Linked DNA regions of Homo sapiens. The protein of the gene in region 1 purifies or fractionates together with the protein of each later gene. This does not show direct contact. Each region holds a gene or a part of one and is shown in the gene's direction. Other genes may lie near its edges. The genes, in order: IRAK4 and TLR4.

Evidence for each region.
Region 2: the proteins of IRAK4 (region 1) and TLR4 purify together in Homo sapiens (affinity purification with western blotting; 2 studies listed by BioGRID and IntAct, with this or other methods). This does not show direct contact.

What each region holds. Positions count from the first base shown.
Region 1 is NC_000012.12:43,786,271-43,790,099, forward strand, and holds the end of IRAK4 (interleukin-1 receptor-associated kinase 4), read left to right. Parts: intron 1-128; coding exon 129-287; intron 288-409; coding exon 410-445; 3' UTR 446-3,271; downstream 3,272-3,829.
Region 2 is NC_000009.12:117,707,159-117,710,987, forward strand, and holds part of TLR4 (toll-like receptor 4 isoform A precursor), read left to right. Parts: intron 1-1,040; exon of another isoform or gene 1,041-1,160; intron 1,161-1,404; coding exon 1,405-1,571; intron 1,572-3,829.

The sequences.
Region 1 (3,829 bases):
TTAAGATAAGATAGTAAAATGAGAGCACATGTTATTACAAAGTAGATTAATTTAAATAATTAAAATATATATTCTATTTTCTTTCACTATGATTTGAAGCTCTTAAAGTTTTAACACTCATTTTAAAGCTAGATATTAAAGAAGAAATTGAAGATGAAGAAAAGACAATTGAAGATTATATTGATAAAAAGATGAATGATGCTGATTCCACTTCAGTTGAAGCTATGTACTCTGTTGCTAGTCAATGTCTGCATGAAAAGAAAAATAAGAGACCAGACATTAAGAAGGTATGCATTTTTTATACTTATTTAAAAAGTGAAAGGGGTGGGGTTCATCATATTTTCCAGAGTGTATATTTTAAAGCAACTGTATAATGTGGTTCTTTTGTTTTTTTCTTTCTTTTTAAAAGGTTCAACAGCTGCTGCAAGAGATGACAGCTTCTTAAAACTTTATTGGAAAAGACTCTTGACTTTTTATATACACCTATCTCAACCATTTTTTTAACTGATTTTTTTCCTAAATATTCTTCTTTACCTTTAACAAGGCATAGGCTGTTGCAGGACAGTGGTTATTAAAGCATGGGTTGAACTTCCAAAATATAAAAATAGAGCCACCATATCAACACTTAGCCCTACCCATTAGTATCACCCCCAGTTCTTACAGTAATCCCTGAGAAATCTCCTTCAAGCATCACCAAACACAGTTTGAAAATTACAGGGTTAGCAAAAAGAGCCTGGGCTGTATGTAGGGTGGAAACACTCTGATCTGAAGCCCAGCTGACTCCACTACTAATTTGCTGTAAAGCTTTGGACATACACTTAGCTGCTGTGAGCCACTAATAACATTGGGCTAATATCTGCTGTGCTTCTCTGACAGGTAGTCATGAAAATCAAATGATGCAAAATATATACAAGCACTTTGTAAATTGTAAAATGATACAAAATTTAAAGTTTATAGAGCCAGTTACAAAATCCTATTAGTCATATATTTATAGATTGTGTTCACAGCAATCATTTAACCACAAATAAAATATCCCTTGATGATACTGCCATAATGATATGTCCATTATTAGATTATGTTACATGACAAAGTTGAAGGAATTTGGCAGATGCAGTTAAGGTTCCTAAACAACTCACTTTGAGACTGTTGAAAGGGCCTGACCTAATCAAGTGAACCCTTGCAAGAAGAATTCTCCTTGTAAGCCTTGAAGAAGTATGTGAGAGGGCCACATTGGCTAAAACCTAAAGGTGGCCTCTAGGAGATGAGACCTACCTTCCAGTTGTCAGCAAGCAGGAAAAAAAAATTGGGACCTCAGTTGCAACCACAAGGAACTGAATTCTGCCAAAAATCTGAGTCAGCTTAGAAGAGTACTCCAAGCTTCAGATGATAACCACAGCCTGGGCTGACACCTGGATTTCAGCTTTGCATGATCCTCAGTATGAGAATCTATCTGTTCTGTGCTGGACTTCTAATATATAGAACTGTGAGATAATGGGTCACATTGGCTGGATGTGGTGGCTCATACCTGTAAATCCCAGCACTTTGGGAGGCCGAGGCAGGCAGATCACCTGAGGTCAAGAGTTCAAGACCGGCCTGGCCAACATGGTGAAACCCCGTCTCTACTAAAAATACAAAAATTAGACGAGCGTGGTGGTGGACACCTGTAGTCCCAGCTACTTGGGAGGCTGAGGCAGGAGACTAGCTGGAACCAGGGAGGTAGAGGTTGCAGTGAGCTGAGATCGTGCCACTGCACTCCAGCCTGGGTGACAGAGTGAGACTCCATCATAAATAAATAAATAAATAAATGGGTCACATTAAGCCTTTAAGTTTGTGGTAATTTATTATTCAGTAATAGAAAACAAATACAGATACTCTCCCATGATGTTTTTCCCATGATGATTTCCCATGATATTTACAGGTTTTGCCCACATTTGAGGGGTATGTGGAAATTATACAGAGCATGTACAGCGGGAGGCTTATAGTGTACGTACTGAAATGTGGGGTTGGAGCCCCAACACAGAGACCCCAGCAGGACACTGCCTAGTAGAGCTATGGGAAGGGTGCTGCCACCCTCCAGACTTGAGAATTGTAGAGCCACCAGCAGCTTGCACTCTGAGCTTGGAAAAGCCACAGGCACTCAACTTCAACCATGAGGGAAGCCACGCACCCTGCAAAGCCACAGGAGTGGAGCTGCCCACGGCCTCGAGGGCCCACCCCTTGCACCAGTGTGCCAGGATGTGGGACATGGAATCAAGGAATATGTTAGGGCTTTTTTTTTTTTTTTTTTGAGACGGAGTCTTGCTCTGTTGCCCAGGCTGGAGTGCAGTGGCACGATCTCGGCTCACTGCAAGCTCTGCCTCCCAGGTTCACGCCATTCCCCTGCCTCAGCCTCCCCAGTAGCTGGGACTACAGGTGCCCGCCACCATGCCCAGCTAATTTTTTTTGTATTTTTAGTAGAGATGGGGTTTCACTGTGTTAGCCAGGATGGTCTTGATCTCCTGACCTCGTGATCACCCGCCTCGGCCTCCCAAAGTGCCAGTATTTAAAGTTTAATGTCTTCCCAGCTGGGTTTCAGACTTGCCAGGATCCTGTTGCCCCTTTCTTTAGCCAATTTCTCCCTTTTGGGACAAGAATGTTTTACTTATTGCCTGTACCACCAACTGTATCTTGGAAATAAATAACTTATATTTTATTTCAGAGGCTCATAGGCGGCAGGAACTTACCTTGAGTCTCAAATGAGACTTAGGACTTTTGAGTGATGCTAGAATGAGTTAAGACTTTGGGAAGGGATGATTATATTTTGCAATGTGAGAAAGACATTAGATTTGGGGGGCTGGGGGTAGAATGACATTGTTTAGATGTTTGTCTCCTTCAAATTTCATGTTTAAATGTAATCCCCAGTGTTGGGGGTGGAGGTGGGGCCTGATGGGAAGTGTTTGGGTCATGGTGGATGATCCCTCATGAATGGCTTAGAGCCACTGGTGATGAGTGAGTTCTCACTCAGTTCGTGTGAGATCTGGTGGCTTAAAAGAGTCTGCTCCCCCTTTGCCTTCCATTGTGATTGTAACCTTCCTGGGGCCTTCATCAAAGGCCAGGCAAATATTGGTGCCGTGCTAGTATGGCCTGCAGAACCGTAAGCCAAAACAAACCTTTTTTCTTTATAAATTACCCAGCCTCAGTTATTCCTTTATAGTGATGCAAAACGGGCTAACTATATAAATTTGTAATTTTTAAGTTATAGATTGTTTTTATTAAACACTTATGAATACTGTTTGAAGTGCTTTAATTTTTATAACAATCCTATGAATTTGGTAATAATCACATTTTACAGATGAGGAAATTACCCAAGATTATATAGCTAATAAGTTGCGTGGCAGAAATTAGCATCTGGTATCAGTTTGCGATCTTTACCACTAACACGATGTCTGTGCATCATATTAATCATAATCATTTTCTCTGTCATATGTTGAAAGTTATTGTGCCAAACATTGTGCTGAGTTTTAGAAGCATGATCTGATTTGATAAATCTACAATGTAGGTTCTATTCTTTTACTTCTTGAGGAAATTTTGAGACCCCCAATGATTAAATAACTTCTTTCCCTTGTTCATTGTATTAGACTGCAATTCTCCACTCATTATATTTGATGCCTTTTGCAATATGGCTTTGTAATTTTTCCCATCAGGAAGTAAAGTCTATTTCCTCAACCATTAAATCTGGGCTGGCCTTGTAACTTGCTTACAGAAAAAGTGATGGTCAGTTCCAAGCCCAGGTCTCAAAAGCACTAATGCACTACTTCTCTCATTTGGAACCCTGCCACTGACATGAGAA
Region 2 (3,829 bases), on another chromosome or scaffold:
ATAAAAGAGGGCAAAGAAAGAGTGCCTGGCACTGTTTCTATTAGACAATATTGTCTTTGAGGCTCCATGGCTTGCAACATTTAAGCAGACATACGAATGAAGATCTGCATGTTTGAACTCTGACTTTGCGCATATTACTTCATTTCTTTGAATTTCCATTTTCCTCATCTTTAAATGCTTATTTGAAGATTAAGTGAAAGTATATAACAAACAAGAACTATGCAGGCATATGGTAAGGGATTAATGATAGATGATAATAATTAATGTTGACATCTATTGATCACTTATACTGTAGCGGGCTTTTAAATAAACTCTTTAAACACCTTATCTCATTTAATCCTTCAAACATTCTATTGGTTTCAAACAACAGAAAACTACAATTAGCTGGCTTCTGCAAGGAATTTTGTTGGAGGAAATGAGAGCATTCAGAAATTAGATGGGAGCGTTAGAGAATTAGGCTTACAAAGAATGTGGGAAAGTAGGCTAGAAAGCAGTGTAAAAACAAAGACAGCATAAAGCACTTGACCTTATTTACTAGGTTCCACCATGGGAATCCATGCACTCTAAAGATTTCCCCCTATTTCTACATCACTTTGCTCAAGGGTCAATGAGCCAAGAAAAAGAATGCAGTTGTCAAAATCTGGGCCATGACTAAGGAAGGTCTGGACATCTTGACTGCCAGACAGTCTCCCCAATGATATGGAGTATTTAAAATGATACTGGATATTTTATTTATTTTTTGTATTTTCAACTTTTAAGTTCAGAGGCACATGTGCAGAGCATGCAGGTTTATTACATAAGTAAATGTGTGCCATGGTGATTTGCTGCATAGATCATGAAAATATGGAACGCATCATGGATTTGTGTGTCATCCTTGTGCAGGGGCCATGCTCATCTTCTCTGTATCCTTCCAATTTTAGTGTATGTGCTACTGCAGCAAGCACGATATTGGATATTTTATTACCTACATTTTACATATGATAAAATGAGGCTCACTGAGGTTTTTCTTTTGTTCGTTTTATTTTGTTTTGTTTTTAAAGACTTGGCCCTAAACCACACAGAAGAGCTGGCATGAAACCCAGAGCTTTCAGACTCCGGAGCCTCAGCCCTTCACCCCGATTCCATTGCTTCTTGCTAAATGCTGCCGTTTTATCACGGAGGTTAGAATGCTGAGCACGTAGTAGGTGCTCTTTACTTTCTAATCTAGAGTAAGACAATTTATAAGCATGAATTGAGTGAATGGATGGATGGATATATGGATGGAAGGATGGACAGATGGATGAAAGGTTGACTGAATTTTGTGCTTGCACAAAAAGAGGCCCCTCTCCACCATCTCTGGTCTAGGAGAGGGGAGTTGGGAGACCATGCAGTAAAGATACTTCATGTCATGTGTAATCATTGCAGGTGGTTCCTAATATTACTTATCAATGCATGGAGCTGAATTTCTACAAAATCCCCGACAACCTCCCCTTCTCAACCAAGAACCTGGACCTGAGCTTTAATCCCCTGAGGCATTTAGGCAGCTATAGCTTCTTCAGTTTCCCAGAACTGCAGGTGCTGGATTTATCCAGGTAATGAATCCACTTTTACATACTGCACAAGGTGAGGTGTTCATTGTCCTGTCATTTCATTATTGGACTGGAAAGCTTGGTTTGTGGAGTCTCATCTTCATTCACTTATTCATTCATACAACAGATGTCTTATTAACTATATAACCTTGAGCAAGCTACCTCTATTCTCCAGGTCTCAGTTTTCTAATCTGTGAAGTAGGCAGTTGGCTGAGACAGCTTCTAAGGGCAATTCTAATTTTAGGTTTTCTTTTAAGACAGGAGAGAAAATTAGCTTAAATTCTTTCATAAGCAGCTATTTATTGACTACTTGCTATATGTTGTACACTCTGCAAGAAGACAGGCATATATTGATATATAACACACAGCCCCTGTTGTTAAGGAGGCATATCTTCTTGAAAGAGTTAATACCTTAAAGTCCTGGGTATGGTCCTGGGTACATAGTATATAGTCAACACATTTTAATTATGATTTTTTGGATCTGGAAACTGATATAAAGATAGCGACATATAACAGTAGGTGATAAATTATGTTTAAACTAAAGGTAACTAATTGTATTTTTCAGAAGAGGGGCCTTCTCTGTGGTGGGTAGTCAAGAAAGATTTCATGAACTGCATAAGATTCAAACAATGTCTAGAATATTAAAACTAGTGTACAGGATAGGGAATTAGGAAAAGACAAGTAACCCAAGGAGAAAGATGTCAAGATTAAAGGAAAACATCTGCTGTGGGCAGGGAATAATGGCTAAGATTTTCTTTTCTGATGCAGGGAAGTATATCGTTTGTTGTGGCAGGTGAAATGTCATCTTGATATTTTAGGGGAACCAAATTCTAAAAGGGTTTTCATCATCGGGGCCTTATTTGCAAATCGAACTAGATAATGGATCATGTTCTCTGCAATGGTTTGTAAAACATTTCAAAACATTTTACATATTTTTTATTATAGAAATTATTGATAAAGACTAAGGTCACAGTATAAAAATCCTTTTTAGAGCAGACATTTCTGTAGAAGAGTGAGCATACGACCTATTATACTCTAATTTGGATATAGATAGGATGTAACAAAGGAGTAATGGAACAATTCAAAGGCAGTGGTATAGTGCATAGAGTCCTGTTGGGGTCAGAAGACCTGAGCCAAGTTTACCCCCAACCTTTATAACCATGTAACCTTAGGCATATTACTTCATCTCCCTTAATCTTAGTTTTCATATCTGATCAATGGAAATGATGAAACTTATTCTGCTGGATTAAATGTGATAATAAATATTAATATGCTGTATATATTTAAATTTTTATAAAATATATTTTATAAGCATAAAGTATTCTTACAGAATTTCATTAGGTTTTTAAAATAATTTCAACTTTTATTTTTGATTCAGGGATTTACATGGTTATATTGCGTAATGCTGAGGTGTAGGGTACAATCGATACCATCACTCAGGTAGTGAGCATAGTACCCAATAGTTAGTTTTTCAACCCTTGCTGCTTTCTCTCTATCCCCTCTCTAGTAATCCCCAGGGTCTATTTTTGTCATCTTTATGTCCATGTGTACTCCATGTTTGGATCCTACTTATAAAGTGAGAACTCATGGTATTTGGCTTTCTGTTCCTTTGTTAATTTGCTTAGGATAATGGCTACTAGCTGCATCTATGCCATTATGTTCTAAATTTCAGTTTCCTGCATGAAAATTTTGTCAAGTACTCTATTAAGGTAGACCACCTCTCCCTTTTTTTTTTTTTCAAACAAGAAGTAGTTTTTCACCAAACAATGTCTCTTATGTAATTCATCTTCAATCCACTGGATACCCAATAAACTTGCCCCAGAAACCTTAAATCTGTGCTTACAGAGAGGCCAGCTTCCCTTCTTGTTAACCCATAGGAGATTCTGAATTAGGGCAAGCACAAAAGATAGCACAATAGACATCCTTTGCCTTTTCGTACAGTGTTCACATACAGTAACTCAACTAGTCTTGTAAGAATGCTTTGTGATAGACCAGGCAGCCTTCTTTCCCCTATAGAAATATATATATATTTCTTTTTATAGGTGAGGAAACTGAAGCTTGAATAATTTAAATGACTTATATACATTATCATTGCTTGTTAGCCACAGACCAGAGATTTAAGTTCACATCTCCAGAATCCAACTTAAATGTTTTCTTTGTCTTAATACTCTACTTCTCTAAAGTGATTATCACCAATGTAATGATATAGAGACACAGCAAGACCCTTTCCTTCTCACCTAATGTATAGAGCAATGCAGAGA